Linked DNA regions of Homo sapiens. The protein of the gene in region 2 purifies or fractionates together with the protein of the main gene of each other region. This does not show direct contact. Each region holds a gene or a part of one and is shown on either strand. Other genes may lie near its edges.

Evidence for each region. The genes of interacting proteins can lie anywhere in the genome.
Region 1: the proteins of CLEC5A (region 2) and REEP5 purify together in Homo sapiens (affinity purification with mass spectrometry; 3 studies listed by BioGRID and IntAct, with this or other methods). This does not show direct contact.
Region 3: the proteins of CLEC5A (region 2) and MTX3 purify together in Homo sapiens (affinity purification with mass spectrometry; 3 studies listed by BioGRID and IntAct, with this or other methods). This does not show direct contact.

Annotation. Positions count from the first base shown.
Region 1 is NC_000005.10:112,919,228-112,926,725, forward strand, and holds the start of REEP5 (receptor expression-enhancing protein 5), read right to left. Parts: upstream 3,001-7,498; 5' UTR 2,964-3,000; coding exon 2,846-2,963; intron 2,030-2,845; coding exon 1,936-2,029; intron 1-1,935. UniProt on the Homo sapiens protein: Plays an essential role in heart function and development by regulating the organization and function of the sarcoplasmic reticulum in cardiomyocytes.
Region 2 is NC_000007.14:141,929,963-141,936,982, forward strand, and holds part of CLEC5A (C-type lectin domain family 5 member A), read right to left. Parts: intron 5,989-7,020; coding exon 5,852-5,988; intron 1,888-5,851; exon of another isoform or gene 1,865-1,887; coding exon 1,758-1,864; exon of another isoform or gene 1,613-1,757; intron 257-1,612; coding exon 142-256; 3' UTR 1-141.
Region 3 is NC_000005.10:79,988,263-79,995,928, forward strand, and holds the start of MTX3 (metaxin-3), read right to left. Parts: upstream 3,001-7,666; 5' UTR 2,977-3,000; coding exon 2,896-2,976; intron 2,402-2,895; coding exon 2,332-2,401; intron 1,975-2,331; coding exon 1,898-1,974; intron 983-1,897; coding exon 890-982; intron 383-889; coding exon 200-382; intron 54-199; coding exon 1-53.

The DNA of each region.
Region 1 (7,498 bases), on a different chromosome or scaffold from region 2:
AGTGGTGCCTTTAGGAGGCAATTAAGACATGAGGGCTTGGCCAGGTGTGGTAGCTCACGCCTGTAATCCCAGTACTTTGGGAGGCTGAGACAGGTGGATCACCTGAGGTCAGGAGTTCAAGATCAGCCTGGCTAACATGGCAAAACCGCATCTCTACTAAAAATACTAAAATTACTCAGGCGTGGTGGCACACGCCTGTAATCCCAGCTACTAGGGAGGCTGAGGCAGGAGAATTGCTTGAATTTGGCGGGGGTGGGGGCGGCCAGGGATGGCGGTTGCAGTGAACTGAGATTACGACACTGCACTCCAGCCTGGGCAATATAGAGCGAGACTCTGTCTCAAAAGAAAAGAAACAGGCATGAGAGCTCTGCCCTCATGCATGGGATTCGTGTCCTTATAAAAGAGGCTTGAGGGAGCCAGTTGACCCTTCTACCATGTGAGGAAGCAGTGAGAAGATGCCATCTTTGAAGCAGGGAGCAAGCCCTCACCGGACACCAAATCTGCTGGTGCCTTGGTCCTGGATTTCCCAGCCTCCAGAACTGTGAGCAATAAATTTCTATTGTTTATAAATTATCCAGTCTAAGGTATTTTGTTATAGCAGCCCAAGCAGACTAAGACAGTGTTCACAGGTCACACTTTAAGCAACATGGATTTTGATGCTACTAAAGACCACCATTTTCAAATACTTTTTCTTTCTTTTGGACAATTATACAATCATATTGGTTATGCAATGAACAGACTTGATTAGACTAATGTAACACCGACCGCCTGAATATTTGCTCACGGGGGTCTGTATGCTTTATTCTGTGCACACAATCCCGTTTTTCCTTGAGTCTCCTCCATAAAGCAGAGCCCGGGGTAGGCCTCAGGGCTATATGTAGCTAGACTTTCTGGAGTATGACTAAGTGTCTGTACCGGACTAACACAGTAACAACTACTAGGTAACTGCAATTTAATTGCTCAAATCAGAACTAACTTCTAAAACATGTTTCTTCCCTTATAGTCATAGACTAAATTCTAGCCTAACTAGTGACAGATACAAGCTGTAATAATGTGTTATCTGTGTCTTAGCCTCCTAGGTGAAAATTTTTTCTTCCTTTATTTTTATCCCTATGGTTGAAGAAAGTAGCAGAGACCAACTGAATGAAGGTAAAAACCACTGGCTTTCTTAGGAAGAACTGTAGAGCAAAACAAAATTCATTTCTGGAGAGGAATAATTCCTACTTGAACGAATGGAAAAATAAAATCGTAGAATTAAAAAAAATAAACACATTGTAGAATAAAAACAACTTTGGTAATAAATTCAGATCCTAATCGTAAAAATTCATTTTTTAAGTAGCTCAATTATATAAATGACTCACTTATATAACCAAGGAGCTATATCATGGAGCATTTTTAAAGGTTTTTGTTTTTACACTAGGGTAAGCATTTCCCAAGTTTGTCTGTAACATGTGGCTTTTTCAAAATAAAAGAAAATGAGAAAATTCTCCCTACTGTCTCAATTAACGTAATTATGAATTAAGGAAGACCTAATTGATAGGGTTTTACTCTCTAGGTGCATAAATATATGGTGAAATACTCATTAAAATAATTACTAGACAGAAGTGCTCAGCTCCCTGTACCTTCTGAGATCCTCCCACCAGTAAAGGGAGGACGACAGAGTGGTAGCGCTTTCCTGTTAGTGTGCCAAAGAGAGGGGACACTGGTCACCAGGATAATCTAATGAAAATACCTCTGGGCTAATCGTCAAGAGATAGGGATTAAGTTAAGGTTCCAAAATGGTGAATACTATCCCCACCCCTTATGTCCAACCTCATCCCTCCCCGCCGAGCTTTCACTTTTCTCCCGGGAATTGCGGATGTGCAGTCTACTGCAGCAGCCCTGCGGGGAGGAATGGAGGAAGGGAAGGGGACGGCTGCAGGGTGTGTCACTTACGAGATGTAGGCTGGGTAGCCAAATCCTATCAGGTTGCAGAGGAGAGAGGCTCCATAACCGAACACCAGGTACAAGGCCACCAGTCCGATGACACCTGGGGACCACAAGGAGAGAAGTGGGTCGGGCAGCATGAGAGCCGTTCACGCGGGACAGCCGCCGCCCACACCGCGAGGCTGGGCCTGTTGTAGGAGTTTTCCTCTCGACTCGATTAAAGGAGCGAGAAAAACAAACCACACGAAAGCTGGGCCTGCGCGTCCGCTGGGCTATGCCTTGAAGTCTGGGGATACCAGGCAGCCCCACCATTGTGCCTCTCCTACCTCCCGCAGGGGGCCCCGGCGCTTTGCGCAGCAACCCCCGGCGCCCGGGACGGTCCCAGGCACCCGCTTCCGCCCTCTCGCAGGGCCTGCTGGGCAGCGCTCCAGCCTGGGAAGCTGCGCTCAGCGGGGAGCGTCCCGAGAGGCCCGGACTCCCGCACACGCTGCAGTAGCAGCCCCCGCCCACCCGAGAGGCGCCCTCTCCGGGCGGAGCTCCACGGAGGGTCGGGTAGGACCGGGTACCTCCGTCAACGCGCCCGCCCGCAGGGGCCCCGCCGTCCGCGCCCACCGCGCAGGACAGCAGGAATAGGGCGCCGGGCCGCGGGGCAGACATACGTCAGCGCTGGCCCTTCCAGCTGCCAGCGCCCGGCGCCGCAGCTGCCCTCCAGCCCCGCGACCCTCAGCCTGGGCAGCCCCCGCGGGGTCCTCCGATGCCCACGCTTTCCGGGAGGCCAGCCTGATCCCTGAATATGCTGCTTGTCCCGTCTGTCTCCGACTCCACCTTTCCCGAGTCCTCTCCCTGCTTCCTTCCCCAGCAGCTGGGGCAGCGGCGGCTCCCGTGGCCCTACCAGCGGCGGCGACCCCCGGCCACCCACCAAGAGCGATGAAGCTCCTGTTCACGCCGGTTTTGGCCTCGAGCTTGGCCAGAAGGTCAGTCATGCAGTTCTTCTCGTGCAGGAACCGGTCGAACCTCTCCCTCATGGCCGCAGACATGGCGGGGACCGTCTCGCCGCTCGGGGCTGTTCCTAGTGCCGGATAGACTGGAGCGGCGACTGCGGCGGAGCAGCGGCAGGCGGGGACCGCGGCGCGTCTACGCGTCCTCCACTCGCCTCCGCTCGCCCCGCCCGGCCGCCGCGCGCCCCTCCTCGGCCGCCGCGCGCCCCTCCTCCCCCGCCCAGCGCCAGGGGGACAGCGCCACACCCTGGCGGGGGCGGGCCTGCAACTCCGCGGACGCTGCGAGGTGGCCTGCCTGTTGACAGTCTTAACCCATTGCGGGGTAAAAAGGATGTGGCGTGGGGGCGTGCATTTTGTGTCTCTCGTGGGTCCCCTTCTCAAATCGGACTATTGCAAAAAGCAGGCAGAAAGGAGGCAGGCGTCCTTGTTGCTCCCGCCTGCAATTCACTGCGATGAGTTTGGCACCTACATTGCTGTGCTAAACCTAAGGCATTTTTGACCTAAAAAATTGAAATGTTTGAGCATCGTGAAAGAACTCTTTGGAAGCAGTCCTGCTTTCTCCCTCTTTGCCTTAACTTGGCAGTTTTTCTCACCTACAGACAATCGTTGCCTTGTAAAGACCCTTGAAGAAATCTAACACATCCTCCCTGGGGTACACCTTTTCCAAGCAAAAACTGCATTAAATCTTTTCATGGTGGGCTTGCGTTGTCTTGGTGTCTGATACTGTGGCAAGTGTCCAAATTCTCTCTGTGGAGCCAATATACTCTGCACTTCCTACAGTCAAAATACTCTGAAGAAGACGGAGATTCTAAGGTCCAAGCCTTAGGGCAGGAGCTCATTTTTGCTTCCTTCAGAATGAGTTGGCCATGCTCTTCCTCCACCTAAACCTAGGCTCCTCTTATCTCACCCATATGACTTCCAGACACTCCTAAAATTACTCTTGTTGACTCCTATTCTGCACACTGCTGCAGAATTTTTGTCCGAAGCTCCGTATTATTATCCTAACAGACTAGAGCTCCCATTCCTTGGCAGAGCATTCAATGCCCTGCCCACAACTGGCCCCGAACATTCTGTCTTGGTCCTACACAACCCCTCTGTGCTTTCAAATCTACTTAATTACCCTACTGCCTTCCACTTCTGCAAAAAGTTATCTTGCCCACGCCTAGCTTTTTCCTTTTATGCTAATTCTCCTTCCTCCTTTCTTCCTCAGAGCTTCTTAGCTCAGCTTTCTCAGCTGTTCCTACCACCACCCAGCCAAATCAGTGAACAAGTGAAACAACCTGCTGTCTACTTCTGTCTTTTCACCTACAGTTAATTCTCAATGTGGCAGACAGTAGAATCTGTTTTAAAATGTGCGTCAAGTTGTGCTATGTTTTTGTTCTCAACCCTCCAGCAACTTCCTATCTGCCTGAAGGAGGGCATCAGGGTCACAGGTGACATGGTTCATCCCTCCCCTTTCTGATGTCTTCCCTTACTGCCTCCCTCCTTGCTGTGCCTCAGACAAGGTAAGCCCATTCCTGCCTCTGGGCGTTCGTTCACTTTTCTTCTATTTCAGTGGTTCTCAACCAGGAGCACTTCCTCTCCCCTTCTTCCTCCTGGGGGGAGGAGTAGCAATGTCTAGAGATACTTTCGTTGTGAAACAGATTGTCACACAAGGAGAGCAGGAGGTGGCAAGTGCAACTAGCATCTAGTGGTTAGAGACTAGGGGTGCTGCTAAACATCCTGTAACACACAGGACAGCCCCCACAACAAAGAATTATCCAGCCCCAAATGTCAATAATGTGACAGTCCAGAAACCCTCCTCTATCTGAAAGTATCTTTCCCCAGTTAACCATTTAACTGTCCCCTTCCATTATTCAGATATTTGTTCAAATGGTACCCCTAATCTCAAATTGCAACCCCCAGTGGTCTCTAGCTTGATTTTTCTCCATAGAATTTATTACTGTCTGGCATTATGTTCTACTTTTTTTTTTTTTTTTTTGAGACTGTCTCACTCTGTCACGCAGGCTGGAGTACAGAGGCGTGGTCACAGCTCACCGCAGCCTCGACCTCCTGCTGTGCTCAAGCCATCCTCCCACCTCAGCCTCCCAAGTAGCTGGGACCATAGCCGTGTGCCACCATGTCCGGCTAATTTTTTCTGTTTTTAGTATAGATGGGGTTTCACTATGTTACCCAGGCCAGTCTTGAACTCTGTGATCTGCCCACCTTGGCCTCCCAAAGTTCTGGGATTACAGGTATGAGCCACCACCATGCCAGACCATGTTCTATTTTTAAATTATCTTTCTTTCCTCACTAGATTATGAGCTCCGTGAGGGTAGACATTTTTGCTTATTTTATTTGCTTCAATATTTTAAGCACATTGAACAGTGCCTGGCACTTAGTAGTTGTTCAATAACTATTTGTTGAATTAATGAATGAATGAATATCTAACATGTGTTGTACCACCCAGTATTCCAAGTGTTACGTGGACTAGTTCATTTAATCCTCACAGCTGCATGAGGAAGATGCTACCTGTTTCATCCTCATTTAAGGAAAAAAAAAATGAGACATAGTGAGTTCCCATATCACAATAAGTGGCAGAGCTAGAATTCAGAATCAGGCTCTTACCCCTATATTACATTGCTATTATGGGTTGAATTGTATTCTACCTCCCTAAAGAAGACATGTTGGAATCCTAACCTACAGTACCTCAGAGTGTGATCTTATTTGGTAATAGGGTCTTCAAAGAGGTAGTCAAATTCAAATGAACTCCTTAGGGTGGACCTCAATCCAGTGTGACTGTTGTCCTTATAAAATGGGAAATTTGGCCAGGCGCGGTGGCTCACACCTGTAATCCTAGCACTTTGGAGGCCGAGGCAGGTGGATTACGAGGTCAGGAGATCGAGACTATCCTTGCTAACACGGTGAAACCCCATTTCTACTAAAAATACAAAAAATTAGCCGGGCGTGGTGGCGTGCACCTGTTGTCCCAGATACTCAAGAGGCTGAGGCAGGAGAATGGTGTGAACCCAGAAGGCAGAGCTTGCAGTGAGCCGAGATCAAGCCAATGCACTCCGGCCTGGGCAACAGAGCGAGACTCTGTCTCAAAAAAAAAAGGGGGGGTGAAATTTGGACGGAGACAGATGCATATAAAGGGAAGACTGTGAAGAAACACAGGGAGAAGATGGCCATCTACAAGCCAAGAAGAAAGTCCTGGAACAGATCATTCCCTCACAACCCTCACAAGGAACCAATCCTGCTGAGACCTTGATCTTGGACTTCCAGCCTCCAGAGCTGTGAGATAATAAATTTCTGTTTTATTTATTTATTTAGAGACAGGGTCTCACTGGGTCACCCAGGCTGGACTGCAGTGACACAATCTCCACTCACTGCAACCTCCACCTCCCAGGTTCAGGCAATTCTTCCACCTCAGCCTCCCAAGTAGCTGGGGCTACAGGTGTGTGCCACCATGCCAAGCTAATTTTTTTTTTTTTTGTAGAGATGGGGTTTCACCACACTGGCCAAACTGGTCTCAAACTCCTGACCTCAAGTGATCTCCCCATCTTGGCCTCCCAAAGTGCTGGGACTGCAGGCATGAGCCACTGCACCTGGCCTCAATTTCTATTATTTAAGCTACCCAGTTTGTGAGACTGTTACAGCAGCCCTAGGAAACTAGTACAGCTGCTTAGCAGAATAACTGAACTGTAAACTTCAAACCAGTTGTGAGTTTGTATAATTTCCTACTGAGTACAGTATGTATATTAAGTTGGGGTTGTTTTTGAATACTTAAAGTGATTCATAATTTGATTTTTTTTTTTTTTTTGAGATGGAGTCTGCCTCTGTCACCCAGACTGGAGTCCAGTGGCATGATCTTGGCTCACCGCAACCTCAGCCTCCCAGGTTCAAATGATTCTCGTGCATCAGCCTCCTGAGTAACTGGGACTACAGGTGCACACCACCACGCCTGGCTAATTTTTGTATTTTTTTGTAGAGATGGGGTTTCACCATGTTGGCCAGGCTGGTCTTGAACTCCTGACCTCAAGTGATCTGCCTGCCTCAGCCTCCCAAAGTGCTGGGATTACAGGTGGCCACAGTGCCGGTCCTGATTTTTTTTTTTTTTTTTTTTTTTTTTTAGACAAGGTTTGACTGTATCACCCAGGCTGAAGTGCAGTGCACAATGTTGGCTCACTGACCTCCACCTCCTGGGCTTACGCCATCCTCCCACCTCAGCCTTCCAAGTAGCTGGGACTACAGGTGTGCACCACCACACCCAGCTAATTCTTGTACTTTTTTGTAGAGATGGAGTTTTGCCATGTTGCCCAGGCTGGCCTCAAACTTGTGAGCTCAAGTGATCCGCCCATCTCAGCCTCCCAAAGTGCTAGGATTACAGGCATGAGCCGCTACACCCAGCCTCACAATTTGATTGTTTTATTTATTATTTATTTATTTTAGCAAAGGAGCAAAATCCTTTTAAGTTAGGTATCCAAATCAACCTAGGTTTTTGTCACTACATTTCATGCAGTGGCAACATTTGTACTACATTAACTATGCATGGAATATCTAGAAACATATTGTTCATTTGCATTTCTTCCTTT
Region 2 (7,020 bases):
CAGAAGAAAGAAGCTCAGTTTCCCAAATGGGCAAGGACCGCTACTGGTAGACAGATAGGTAAGTAAAAGAATCATTGGCCAGACGACCTGTATGGATTCAAAAAGAGTTGCAAGTATAGTTCTTGTCACAGGGAACTGTGATCATTTGGCATTCTTCTCACAGATCCTGCGGTAGCTGATGTCACATGATGCAGCATCAAATGTCTTTGTTAGGCCAATGGTCGCACAGTTGAAATTCTGATTCTGATTGGTAACACTAAATGAGAAAACAAAACAAAACAAAACAAACAAACAAAAAACAAAGCATGGTGATGGCCCATCATTTTAGCCCAGCCTCTTCCTGATTCCAGAGTGAGAGTCTTGCAGGAGTTTTGCCTGGAAGGGCAGCAGACTACCGGGCCCACACACGTCTCCATCTGCGTAGCCTCCTTTTTAGCTCAGATCCTTTTCCTAATCCAGCTCCGCAAATGCAGCTCTAAACCCACCCTTTCCTGTCAGCTCTCCTGTGAGCGTGTATGGATTCACAGTCTTGGACTAACTAACTCACTCTGGCATTTGGTTAGAAGCATCTCATGGGCTGTCTCTTCTTCCAAAAGTACTGTTTAGGATAGCATGCATGTTCACAGCAAGAGGACAGGAAGGAAAAGGAGAGAGGTTGTGCATCCCTTTCCAGACCATAGTGGCCTCAGAAAAACTTGGTGGAGGTATTTGTTGGCTCTCCCACCTCTTTTTCTGTCATTCAGTCTGTTTCAGTCTGACTGAAAAGGCTCTGGTTTCGGAGAAATGTCATGTGTTTGGGACTAGCTTTATGATATTTAACACATTTCTAAGCTTTACTTGTCCTCAGTTCAACTGTCTGTGAAATGGGGAGCGATAAAAGCTTTTCATGTAGCATCATGGGGAATATTTCAGGAAACAACATATGCAAAGTGTTTAGCATAGTGCTGGCATTAGCAGACACTGAATAAATGTCAATTTCCTCCTCTCTGTAGGGAAGCCCAGTTACAGGCTGGGGGACTGACTTGACCTCTGTCTGAATCACTATTTTTGTATAAACACTGGGAAGATTATTGATGTTCTCACCAATCCTCATCTCCATGGAACAATTCACAGGAGACAGCTCTTGGGGGTCAGAAGTTCATAGCTTTAAGACATAGACAAGTTGCTTATAATAACCTTTCTTAGATAAAGAAGGCATATCTGGGGAAACTTGTATGTACTTTGTAATAAAATGTGATCTGTGGGTTAAAAGACGAAGCCCTTTTGATCAGTCAGAAACACTAGTGTTATAGAAATAGATCTCATCTCTATACCAACTGGGTTGCCTCCATAAAACTGACCCTGTCTCCTAGAGATGGCTAGCATCCAGTCTAGACTCATATCTAGTCTGTTTGAAGTCAAGAGACTGAGCTTTTTTGATCAGTCAGAAATGCTCAGTGCTATGGAAACTAGCATCTATAGAGAGCTACAAGATACATCAAATGAATGCTATGTAGGTGGATTTGTTTGGATCTTGATATGAATAAAATAATTTGCTATATGAATACTCTTCTTTCTCCTTATGAAAGTTTGATCTCTTTCATAAGAAAACATTTATTAAAATGTGTCTCAGGGAATAGATGGGTTGGAAGAAAGGAGAAGAGCAGAACAGAGTCAAGTGTCAGCGTTTGAGCTATTCCAGGGTGAACCCAGCAATCTCAGGTTTGGTCTTTTGAAGCAAACCAAGATCCCCAGGAAACTGTGGCATGTTCACGTACTTGCCATTGAACACAGAGTTGTTGATCCAACGCCACCTTTTCTCTTCACGATGGTAAATTAAGCCAATAAAATACTTCTCAGCATCAGTTATGTCCTGAAGAAACTTCTGGAAATAAAAAAAAAATTTTACCAGTGAGTCTTTTAATGATGCCTCTCTTGAGCCAATGTGCCCATGATTATATCTGATCCTGGGAATAAGGAAGGCCGGTAGAGAACTCTGGGACCAGCTATAGCTGGGACTCACAACTAACCCTAAAGAAGTCATTGTCAAGATTCAGAGGGAATTTGGAAAACCTGAGGTCTTGTTAAAACACAGACTGCTGGGCTCCTGGTTAAGTAGGTCTAGTGAAGGGAACCAATAATTTACTTTTCTACAAAATGCCCAGGTGATACTGATGTTTCTGTCCAGGGACCACACTGTGAGAATGAAGGGGAAGGGGTACTGTACAATCTAAAACAGGGTCATTTAAAAAAATATGTCATGCTTCTATCCATAGGATTGTTTTTGTTGCCAGAAATTTTGTATGCTAAGTGAGGCTGAACCAAGTGCTAATAAAATGTGTTTCTATATATTGAGTACTTAGGAAAGGAAAACGGTGAGATTTAAAAGTGTATTGCTTTTAAAAGTGTAATCCAAGAAGAAATAAGCAAGTGCTTGTCAAATATTTGCTGATTTGACACTAGTCCTAGACATCTTTGTTCTGTAATTAATTGGTGAGTTACAAATCATTTCAGCCAGAAGTGTTTCCTATACTTGTCACATACGTCCCATAATCAGTGGGTATCCAAGTCTTATTCTTTCCATCCCCATGGCTATTTCCTTAGTTTCTCACTTTTCAATGTTCTCCTTTTCTGAAATATCTTATTTCATTACTTTTTAATTAATTACTGAATGTTCTCATTCACCAAACATCTCTCGAGTGTCTATTATATGCCATGCATTGTGTTAGGCTGAGGATGTGGAAACAAATATATTTCTCCTCAAAGAAATTATGATCAAGAGGGTTGGCAAACTACAACCAGTGGGCCAAATCCAGACTTCATCCTGTTTTGGTAAATGTTTTATTGGAATGCACCCATGCCCATTGTTTACACATTATCTACGGCTGCTTTCAAGTTACAACAGCAGAGACCAATGCCCTGAAAAGCTTAAAATGTATGTTATCTGACCCTTTTTTAAAAAAGTTTTCTGACCCATGGTCTAAAACCAGAATCCTTAATGCTGAACTCTCATGCTGGAAGCCATGGATGGTTTCCCAGGAAAACTATGAAACCACTGGAATGTTATGAAAAATATTTTGCTTATGTAATGTTTCTGGGAAGGGGTACATAGATTTTATCACCATTTTAAAAAAGTCAGTGGTCCCATCATGTTTGAAGAACCACAGGTTTAATGAGGGAAGACAACCAACTTAACTAGCATAAGGAGGTATCTCAGGTGTAGTACTAGGAAATTATATACTGGATCTGGAAGAGGCAGAAAGGAGGAAGCGATCATTCTACATAGATCTGAAGTTTTTCTAGAATGATAGATGAGGTGATACCTGAGATGAATTTTAGGAGATAGCTAAGTTTGTCAGACAAACTGTCAGGGAGAGTATGGACTTCCTGGAAGAGAGCATGGATTATAGGCAGGTGGGGAAGCAGCCTGGAGCTCTTGAGGAACTACGAGATGCTCAGCGTAGTTAGTGCAGAGGTGGCAGGGAGGTGGTTTGAGAGACAAGGCTGGAGCAAAGGCAGAGGCGGCACTGTGCAAGGCCTGATATGATGTAAGGTACATGGATGTGCTTTGGTCAAGGAATAGGCTGAGGTGGACATCCAGGCCAAAGTGACTCAGCGAGTTTAGGGAGCAGGCATATATATATATATATATATATATATATATATATATATATACTTGTTATATAACCTATTTGTGTAAGCTCATGCTTAGCTCAGAGCCACTATTGTTTGAAAAAGGTATAATTGACCTGCCGATGCTGTGCACGCAACTTGGCTTGGCTCAACGTGCCTTGACATGGTACAGGCTCTGGTGCCCAGAGAAAGAGAGAGAGAACCAAGGCTGTCCATCTTGCAGACTGATAGAGGGCAGCCAGGACATGGCTCAGCATGCATTCATGCCCAGAGGGAGAAAGAGTTAAGCTGCTGACCCTGAACGCTAAGGGAGAGCCGGCTGCGCAGCTGTGAATGGGAGCGGCTGGAGCAAGCAGCTGAGACAGACAGACAGAGAGTATGAGAAAGCTGCTGATGAAAGAGCTGCTGAATAAAACTACATTTCACCTGTGTATGGCCCCCTGAGTGTTCTTTCAGCTATCTGCCACCCACCCACTCCCCTAGGACCTTAGCATGGGCTGGAACCTGACCCTGAGTGTGACATTTGGCATGGTCATGAACCTGACATATGCCATGCTAGGAGAACTGGCGTTTAACCCACTTTAATTTGGAAAATGGTACAGTTTAGAGCCTTAGAGGTATTATAATGTCAGTTCTGAGGAGGATAGCTAGAAAGAGTGCAAAACTGGAGGCAAGGAGATGGATTAGAAGAATTCTGAAGAAATCCAGGTGAGAACTGAACTATTTGTTGTTGGCATAGAGAGAAAAGGACTTGTTTAACAAATAATTGAGGAAGAAAAGAGAAGGTAAAGTCCCAGAAAACTCTTAAGCCTTCAATCTTGGGTGACATGAGTACTCACCAGTATTTGGAATGCAACAGGAAGAGTGGGGGGGTCAAATATAATTGACTCAGTTTTGAACATAGTGAGTTTGTGGGCCTCTTGAAACATCGAAGTGGAATTTGGTATACTTGTTGGGAGGAGAAGGATGAGCTGGAGATACAGACTTGCGAGTCAGCAGCAAACCATTGCCATGATGACCTTTGTCTTTTTCTTTAACGTTTTTTTTTTTTTTTTTTTTTTTTTTTTTTGAGACAGAGCCTTGCTCTGTTGCCCAGGCTGGAGTGTAGTGGCACAGTCATGGCTCACTGCAGCCTCCGCCTCCTGGATTCAAGCAATTCTTGTGCCTCAGCCACTTAAGTAGCTGGGATTTCAGGCATGCACCACCTCACCTGGCTAATTGTTAGTAGAGACATGGTTTCACCATGTTGGCCAGGTTAGTAGTGATGACCTTTTTCATCACCAAGGAAAAGGTACATGGATGTGTTTTGGTCAAGCAAATTGGGATCCACAAAACTTAATGGGTGTGGCAGACTTGTCACACTTGCTTCTTCCCGTTGCCTTCCCTCCTTTCCTCTTTTCATTCCCCTGTCTTGCTCCTGTTTTTCTATCTTAAGACATTTTCCCTTGCTACCTGGGTACTTAGCCCTAGAGGGTTTGTAGCATCCAGATCCCTTGGTCATCTATTACCAAGATTCAGAAAGGAGAAGTTCTTACAAATTCTTCTAAATCACAGGAGGACTTTCTAGAGGAGGAATAAAGGGATAGAAGCGAGAGAAGCAAGAGTATAGTGTATGTAGCACAGATTAGAGTATGGGTTTTGGAGTCAGAGAGTTCTGAATTCAATTCCACGTTCTGTTATTTGACCTTGGGCAAATTACTTTTCTGTGCCCTAGTTGCCATTTATAAAATGTGGATAATAATACATCCTCATTATTATTATCATGATCATCAACTGCAAATTCAGTATGACCTGATTCTTACTTTTTCACACTACTAATTTTGTCAGTTCACGTCTTCCTTGTTTACTATGCAGACTGGGATGGTACATTGACATCACATCTATAAGGTATTCTTTTTGTTGTTAAACAACTTTTATACACATCATCTCATTTGGTCATTTGCTTCACTTTAAATGTCTTGGCCCATCCCCAGGATATCAGCTAATTACAGTGCGCTATAGAAAAGACCACAAGGTGCGAATTTCTGTGGTTAAATGAAACTGGAAAATCATGCTGCTTCACTGCTACTAAGAAGAATCTCCTAACCTCCAGTCCAGAACAAATAGCTTCAGTTTTTCAGCCAGCCACCTCTCCATTCCTCACTCCATCCCATCCCCACTCCCCCAAGTTTCTACCCCATCCCACCCACTGAGGCTGTGTGGAGTGTGTGGCTTTACTGTACCATTCCAGTGTTCTCACCAGTTTCTCTGGCGTGTTGACAATTGCCAATGTGGATCCTTTTCCTTTGCAAAAGTCCCTGCTTTCATTCCAAGATGATTCAGAAGTGGATAAGAAAAAACATCTTGCTTGATAAAATTCCCAGTCTTTGGGGCAGACTGAAGAGGTCCAAGAAAGGAGAGTACGAGTTTACTGGTTTGGGTTATGAATCCTGCAACTAAGTCATGAAACAGTGATACATATTTTTGCTTTGTTTTAACAATTATATTGGTAAAAATTATTCTCCATCCAGGAAGAAATTCCACCCAGTCTAGTCTGGTTCCTTGACAATAATATAAGGAGAATAAGGAGAAGAGCGCAGTGGCTGAATAAAGTTTCCATTAGTCATCCCCCTACAGGAACACCAAATTTGACAACTATCTACACACAAAAAAGCACATATACATACATGAGAACAAAAAATCAGATGAACACTCAGTACCTGGATAGCTGAAAGAGGCACTGCAGAGGGTAGGAAAGATAGTCTTGAATTGCTGACACCACCCCCACCCTATCCCTGCTGCAGTGACAGCATGGCATGGTAAAGTGTATGTGCATGGGAGAGGGAGTGTGCAGGGATTGTGAGACTTTACATTGGACTCAGTGCTGCCCTGTCACAGTGGAGGGCAAAACGGACCAAACTCAGCTGATACCCACCCATGGAGGAAGCATTTAGATGAGCGCTAGCCGGAGGGGAATAACCCATCCCAGTGGTTGAAACCTGAGTTCTGGCAAGCCTCGCCACTGTGAGCTGAATTGCTTTGGGGCCCTAAATAAACTTGAAGGGTAGTCTAGGCCACAAGGACTGCAACTCCTAGGCAAGTCCTTGTGCTGAGCTGGGCTTTGAGCCAGTGGAATTAGGGGGCACCTACTGAGATACCAGCCAGGGTGGCCAAGGGAATGCTTGTGCCATTGCTCTCCCAACCCCAAGCAGCACAACTTGCAGCTCCAAAAGAGACCCTTTCTTTCTGCTTGAGGAGAGGAGAGGGAAGAGTAAAGAGTACTTTGTCTTGCATCTTGGATGCAAGCCACAGTAGAATAGGGCACTAGTCAGAGTCGTGAGGTCCCCATTCCAAACCCTAGTTCCTGAAAGACATTTGTAGAGACACCTAGACATACCCTGGGCCAAAAGTGAATCCTCTGTCTTGAAG
Region 3 (7,666 bases), on a different chromosome or scaffold from region 2:
GTTCCCAATCTGTTTGATAGAAGATTTAGGCACTCCTTGGCATCTCTGTATATCTAATAAGGATGAAATTATATCTCAAAAGTAGAAAAGATACTCTAAAACTACTTTTGAGGAAGGCATCTCTAGGTAAACTCAAGTCTGCATTTTATCTTGTCCTTTCTCTCTAGGGCCCTTGCTTGAAGAATAATCCATACTATACCTGTGCTTCCACTTCTCGGAGGTGGTAGAGGGGAGGCTGTCCTCTGGTCAGGAGAATCCTATTCAGTGCTCCCTTAGACATTCTTCCAGGCAGGATCAAACTCAAAGGAAAAGGAATTTGTGAAGCAAACCATGGCTTTGTCACAGTAAAGTAATTGTCACTCTCAACCCAGAATGTGTGAAGCTGCAAAAGAAGAGAAAAAACACTACAAGGATGTTCTTTTATTAAATGAAAGATCACTCAATCAACATGAGAGTTTTTCATAAATATCTTTATATGAAGTGTCTTCATACAAATTTTCCAGTTAGAATGACTCAGGATAAAACAAGATTATTTTAAATGTGTGAGTTTTGTTGACTGCTATCTTCCAAACACCCAGAACAAGGCCTGACACATAGCAGGTGTTCAATAAACATTTGTTGAATGAATGAATTACACCCAATTCTATACATGGAGCAAAAAGATCCATCTCCCACAAAGAATTTCCAACATGACATTTTATTTTACTTTGTTGTTTCACATACTAGTTGAATGCCTAACAGAATCCAGTTTCACAGTAATATGAAGGAATTAAGATTAACATATAAGTAAAATTTTCTCTTAAGACTTTTCTCATTGGTTTTTTTCTAAACAGACTATGTACATTTGCAACTAGGCTACTAAAATACTGTAATATTTAAGAACACTCACCACTGCAGGGAGAAGCTTCTCTTCGAGGAGAGCAATATAAGCCAATGTATCTGCCCCTTGTTTTGCTGAGAGTTCATAATCAGCATTATATTTCTATTAAAAAAAAATAAACCAAAGAAACTCAGAAGTCAAAGAGCAGCCCAAAGACAGTAAAACTAATCAAATCAGGATTCATATTTTTCCTTACAAATAGCAAACGTGGTATTAAAATGGGAGAAAGAGAAATACAAATCCAGTGAAACCTATTGCTTAATGCACATAAAGTTCTTAGCACAGCATCACATACACAATATGGTCAATAAATGTTACAATATTAACTACTATTATTTTCATGCTTGTTAATGACCTAGTTCAGTGCATGGCATGTAGTACAAACAAAGCAACTATTATTTTTAACAAGAAGGAAACAGTTCCAATTGGCTGTGTTTCTCCCCAAGACAAAAGAAAAAACCTTCCAATTTATAAAAGTTCAAAATGTTATTGACACAATTTTTTTAAGTACAGTATTGGCAAAACAAATAACTTATCCATTCATATAAATCTTTACATGTTTAAACATTTTGGATACATAATTCTCTACTGTTAAAACATTTAGATACATTATTCCATAAAACTGCTATTAAGAGCTTTTTAAAAATAATATAGTTGCTAGTTGGTGAGAGCTCAGGTGTCATGCCCAGCACAAAATGTGTACCAACTATGTGACAAAATACACAATCCTATCAATAAGTTTAATAGTGAAAATGGCTAATTAAATCTACTTACATACAAATTTCAATAAAATTCAAGCAAAGTTTATTAAAATATAAACTGACTACCTCTTCATATGACTTTCAAATCACAGAACTCATGCTTTAGAGCAGTGATTCTCAAATCTATTTTTACATCTTGTCCCAGGTATCTCCAATTGTCTAATGAGTTGGCAAAAAAAAATAAATAAATAAAATAAAGCCCAACATGCAGGGATCAACAATCTACCAATCTACTTCTTCAAAGTGAACCACCCACCTGTTTTCTTAAAAAGTTTAGTATTTTTGCTGGCTGAGAAACCATGTCGTCTTCAGTTGTCAAAATTGGTACATCGCCTATAATCAAAAAACAGTTTACATACAAGGACACAGTGTGATTTCCTCTGAGAGATTCCAATATCCTAAAAACTATAGCAGTTGCACATTTAGAGGGGAAAAAATGAGTAAGCTTGTCTTGGTTTTTTTGCTGTTTCACAAAGAGCGGTTCTAAAGAACATTTTCGTTTCTCATAATTTCCAGTGATTTCGCTTGCACTTTGAGGTATTACTCAGAATGATCAAACCATAAACAACACAGAGCCAAGGTCACGGTAAGAAACTAAATCCTCAATATTATAGCTATATACCTCACAGCTTTAAATGGAAGAAGAAAAAAAAGAGTGCAGAAAGGGGAGTGTAAAGGTTTACACTATACCTCTTGAACCTCTCCAGGTGTTATCTATCACATTGACTTTCAAGGGTGCACCAGAAAATTTGGCATAAGCCTGAAACAGAGTTTGCAATCAAACATTTTAGACCAAGTGCGTAATGCAAAGCTGCAGAGCAGCTTTACTTCACAGCCCCATCCCCCAAAGGCAGAAGGCGACTGATACTGAGGCCGCATCCCTCCCCGTGATCTCAAGTAGGGACGCGGGCGCCAGCCACCCGGCTTTCGAGGACTTTGCTCCCCAAAAGGTCCTGGGGATGCAGAGTAGGGAGGGCGCGCCCCTTGCTTCGGGGTTTCACTCCACCGCCCAGACAGCTTTGTGAGGCGGACAAAACTCGGAGCCAAGCGGAGAAGCCTTGATGTCGCCGCCGGCCTTCGGCGGGGGTATCGGCCAGGTTGGGACTCGTCGGTGGGAGGGAGCCCAGGGCAATGCAGCGTGCAGCGGCTCGGCCCTCCTGGACCCCGCAGCGCAGCGGGAAACTGGGGCAAGTCAGCCTGGCGCCTCCAGCCCCGCCCCTTCCTCCTGCGCCCTGGCCCGCGAGGCGGCCTCACCATCACCACCAGGGACTCGCTGTGAACCGATGGGAGTCCCCAGCCGCCTCCCCAGCAACTGAGTTCCAAGGGGGCCGCCATCTTGCGCGGGCCGACCTTTACTATCCCGGAAGTACTTTTCCTCCTAATTTCCGGCACGTGAAACGCGGGGGCGTGGCTAAGGGAGGGAAGGGTAATTTGGGGGCTCTTGAGAGATGAGAGAAACAACGACTGGAGGGATTAAGAAGAACTCTTAGGAGCAGCTTGGCCTAAAGGGTAAGAGTTGTGTGCCTTAAGTCAGACCCACCAGTAATTCTTCAAATATTAATATTTATTAGATCCCTAGAGTGTTCCAAACCCTTTGAACATTAAATCTGTGTGATGCCTAAATTAACCTGTTTGTAAAACAGGGATGACCCAGTATTTACAAGATTGTGGTATTTACAATGTCGGAGAGAAAGAACTTGGCACACAGGAGGCACTCAGTAATTGTTCAACCCCTTCTCCCATGTATGTGGCCTCTGCCTGCCTTTCCAGCCTCAACCTGTTCTCACCCTCATGTTCACTGGCACAACCCTGCTTAAAAGTTACAGTATTTCTGAACGTCAGGTAAATTGTGCCCACCTTCAGTGCTGGTCCTTCAATCTGGAATATCTTTCTTCCCTATGCAGCTGCTCCCTCAAAAATGAGCTTAACTCACCTTCCCTGTGATGTTTTTACAAAGTTAGGAGCTCTGGGTTCTTGTAGCCCCTTGTGCATATTTGAATTGTAGCTTCTCTCCCTAGCTACAGACCTTTTGCCTTTCACAGAAGAGGGCTAGCTTCATAGGTTTGGGACCTGTGCAGCCACACAAGGCTCTGTGCTTAAAAAGGCTCCTCATTTGGCTGATGCTCTTCCGTCACTGTCTTGAAATTCTTAAGTTTTGAACAAGGGGCTCTGCATTTTTATTTTGGACTGGGCCCCTCAAATCATGTAGCTCGTCATGTCTGTGGGCCTAATGAGCACAGACTAAATGTTTCTTGACGTTAAACCTGACAGTTTCTCAGAAAAACTATTAAAGAGGAAATTTTGGTCTTGGAAATGCTATGATCCAAACATATGACTGGGTCTCAGAGTTAGAACTTGGGTGCTGGGTCTTTTTTCTAGAAGGCACAGTAGTCTTTCTGGGACACCCTCGCAGTCATGCCTCTGAGTTCTTTCCTCTATTCCACTGAGATGGTCGGATCTTCTTAACTAAAACTCAAAAGAAACCTCTGCAACTTTTCGTAAAATTACTATTCAACAAATATTTGCTAGGCACTCCCTTACTGTTTACATAATCATTCAAATTACAGTGCCAGCCTGCTAAAGTCTTTTTTACATGTTTCAAAACCAAGAGTTCTAAGAAATGAAAAAGAGATATGTCAGAAATGAGAATTCATTAATAATAACTGTATAATTGGAAAATGCATAACATATGTACCATTAAAACTGTCGAAACATTTATTGAGCAGCTCCTATGTCTTAGACATCATAAGGTTCTGGAACAATACAGAAATATATAAAACATGAATTCTGTCCTCGGGAGTTTACAGTGCACAAAGGAGATATACACACACCAAGGTGTAACAAGTCAGATAATCACGAGTAGGGTTAGAAATATAAGCAAAATACTACAGAAACACAAAGGAGGGACAGTGCATCCTCTGTGTGATCAGTGGAGACTATCTGTTGAGTCTTCAGTATAAAGAAAGTAAAGTAATTCAACTTTCAGATTGTAATGGAACCTCCCTGTTTTGAGGGTTAGAAATGTCAAACCATAGACTGACAAAGGCAAGGCAGGGGGAAAGAAAATCCTAAGCCATAAAGCTGAGGGTCCATATACTACATTCAGGCATTTAAAACAATCATACAGAAAGAATGTGGATTTCCTGAGCCTTGTTTGTAGCAGGACTGAGAGGAGTGAATGAACATTCTTAGTGGACACATAACACAGTTACTCAGTTTGGCCTTCTTCCGTACTGCTGCTACTACATACAGTGATTTCATTTGCATTAAAGAGAAATTAAATCTCTTCCCTTAGTGTTGAATTGAGACAGAATAGCATGTCATTGCATCTGATGAAAGAATCCTTACACACAGGTTTATTAGTGCATAGATAATAGCAATCTTTTATTGCTGCAGTTCCTCTTGAGAGTCTGTATCTGTTAGATTGAATTTAAAAAACTCTAACATAGCTGATTGCACAAACAGGCTGAATACTGTTCCAGAGAACCACACAGAAAATTGAAGCCTTCAGAAATTATGCCTGGTATGGTTAGTTGGCTCCTGTGCCTTTTCCTGGCTGTTTTAGAGTATTGTTCAGAGTTCATCTAAATCATAACTTCAGATTCCTACCGGGAAGAATACTGTCTGCAAAACATCCATGTTTGTGTGGGATGGCCTGAATCACAGCTTTATAATGAGTATCCCAGACAGTGTTTTCCCCAAAAAAGAAATCTTATTTTTCAAAAGATGATCATTAAGAATGGTTTCATCTGGTGATAGTCATCTGAACTCAGGCAACCTGACCTTGGCATCCATACCCATCCTTCATGTGTTTCTTAACTTGGGAGCCACAGTGCAAGGTTTGTTAGGCTCTTTTTGTCTGGGTGATTAAGAATCTGGGAAATGGTGCTGTTGGGAAAGATGAAAGGTTTGTGACAAATGATGGTACAGTATATGGTCCCTTATGGGAAAATTAAATTGTAAAGTCTTAAATATCCCTTTGAACTTGAAGATTCTGTAATTTGTGTTCAGATATAAAATCCTTAAGGAGGGGAAAGAACAAACACTGAATAGAAAAAAGGAGAGCTGAGTTCTTGACTTGGCCTCTGATTAGCCATATGCGCTTGGGCCAATCATTTTACATTGATACCTCTGCTCATTCATTTATAAAGCAAAAGTTCTTTTATCTCTGAGATGCTATCATTTTATGTGTAATGAACATTTAATAATTTCTGACATTTATGGAGCAATTTCTACATGCCAGAAGTTGTTTCAAGTATCTAACATAACTTGCTTTATCTCCATAATGATTTCATGACACAGGTACCTTCCTAAGGTTAACTAACATCTTTGTGTCCCTCCTTGAAAATAGAAGAAAATATCAGTACCCATATAGCCAGTAGGTGGTAGAACCAAGATTTGAACCCAGGCAGTTTTGGCTTCAGAGTTTATACTCTTAACCACTGTGTCATACTGCCTCATGTAGCCTCCTGTGTAGTCCATTAAAAAGCCCAGTTTCACCCAAAGTGGAGATATCAATGCCATGATATTATTGTTATTATTTATGTAAATAATATTTGTTTAGTATTACACCATTAAACGAATTCATTAAGCAGCTTCTGTATGCCTAGCACACTGCAAGCCTGTCAGGGAATAAAAATTTATGTTCGCCTGTAATCCTAGCACTTTGGGAGGGAGGATCACTTGAACCCAGGAGTTCAAGACAAGCTTGGACAACATGATGAAACCTTGTCTCAACAGAAACACAAAAATTATAGCTGGGCATGATGGTGTGTGCCTATAGTCTCAGCTACTTGGGAGGCTGAGGCGGGAGGATGGCTTGAGCCCAGGAGGAGAAGATTGCAGTGAGCCGTGATTGTGCAAAAACTTATGTTCAAGCTTTTAGAGGCACAGTTGATGAAACAAGGCCCACATATTTGAACTAACTAGAGACTATTAGGAAGTACCATTTTGTCAAGAAGACAAGTCTAGTATGGTTTTAGACAAAGGCTTGAATGTACTGCAATGCTTGGCAAAGGCCTAATGAAAGAAGATGATAGCTGATCTCGAAGGGTGGGTACGTTGCATTTAGATTGGCACAGAGTAAGGCATTGCATATGGGCTGTGCTATATAAGTGAAGGCATAGAAACAGGACTGACTATGGCAAGGAATCTGAAGATGAGTAAACGAATGCTGGGTTTGGTTATAAGCTGGAGACTGCTCAGGGAGAGTATTGGTTGACTAACTTGAGAACCAGAATTGGAAGGCATGGGAATTTATAGTTTTGAGAAAGTAAAGACAAGTAAAAGTCCAAATACAATATTAGTGGATTTACATAGTCAAGGATGGGAGGTAGACAGCTATTGTTACATGGACATTATAAGAAGAAGCATTTTATAAACCCATAAACTATATTAAATAAAGTAAAAGTGTGGTGGAAAATGCTGCTGAATATTATTGGAGGAAGGTCACTTGGCACCCTTCCGCTGAGCATTTTTGATAGAGGAGGTTGTTAGAAATCCAGTGGCAAGGGATTACTGGAGAAAAGGGTATAAACGATAAGGACAGGTCTAAGAGCATGAGGAATATGACTGATAAAGGAAGAAGAGAAATGGGACAGGACTGAAAGACTCAAAGTTTTTGAAAGAGACGACATGGTGAATCTACACACATATGAGGACAAAATTGGCTATTATGAGTAAAAGTCTGAAGATGCTGGAGAGAAGAAGGATGGGATCCTAGAAATTGCCCTAAGAGTTGAGGCTGAGATCCGGAGCTTGAGCAGCGGGGCTGGCAGGCATTGAAAATGAGAGACATGCTCTCTTTCTGACACTGGAGGAAGTTTCAAGGGGAACTATGGGATGCTGAGTAGATAAATCAGTTACCTTCAAATTTCCCTATTACATTAGAAAAAAAATAAAAGTGCCTGAGAGAAAGAGATTGGGGCTTTAAAAAGACAGCTGGGCACAGTGGCTCACACCTGTAATCCCAGAATTTTGGGAGGCCAAGGCAGGCAGACCACTTGAGGATCACTTGAGGTCAGGA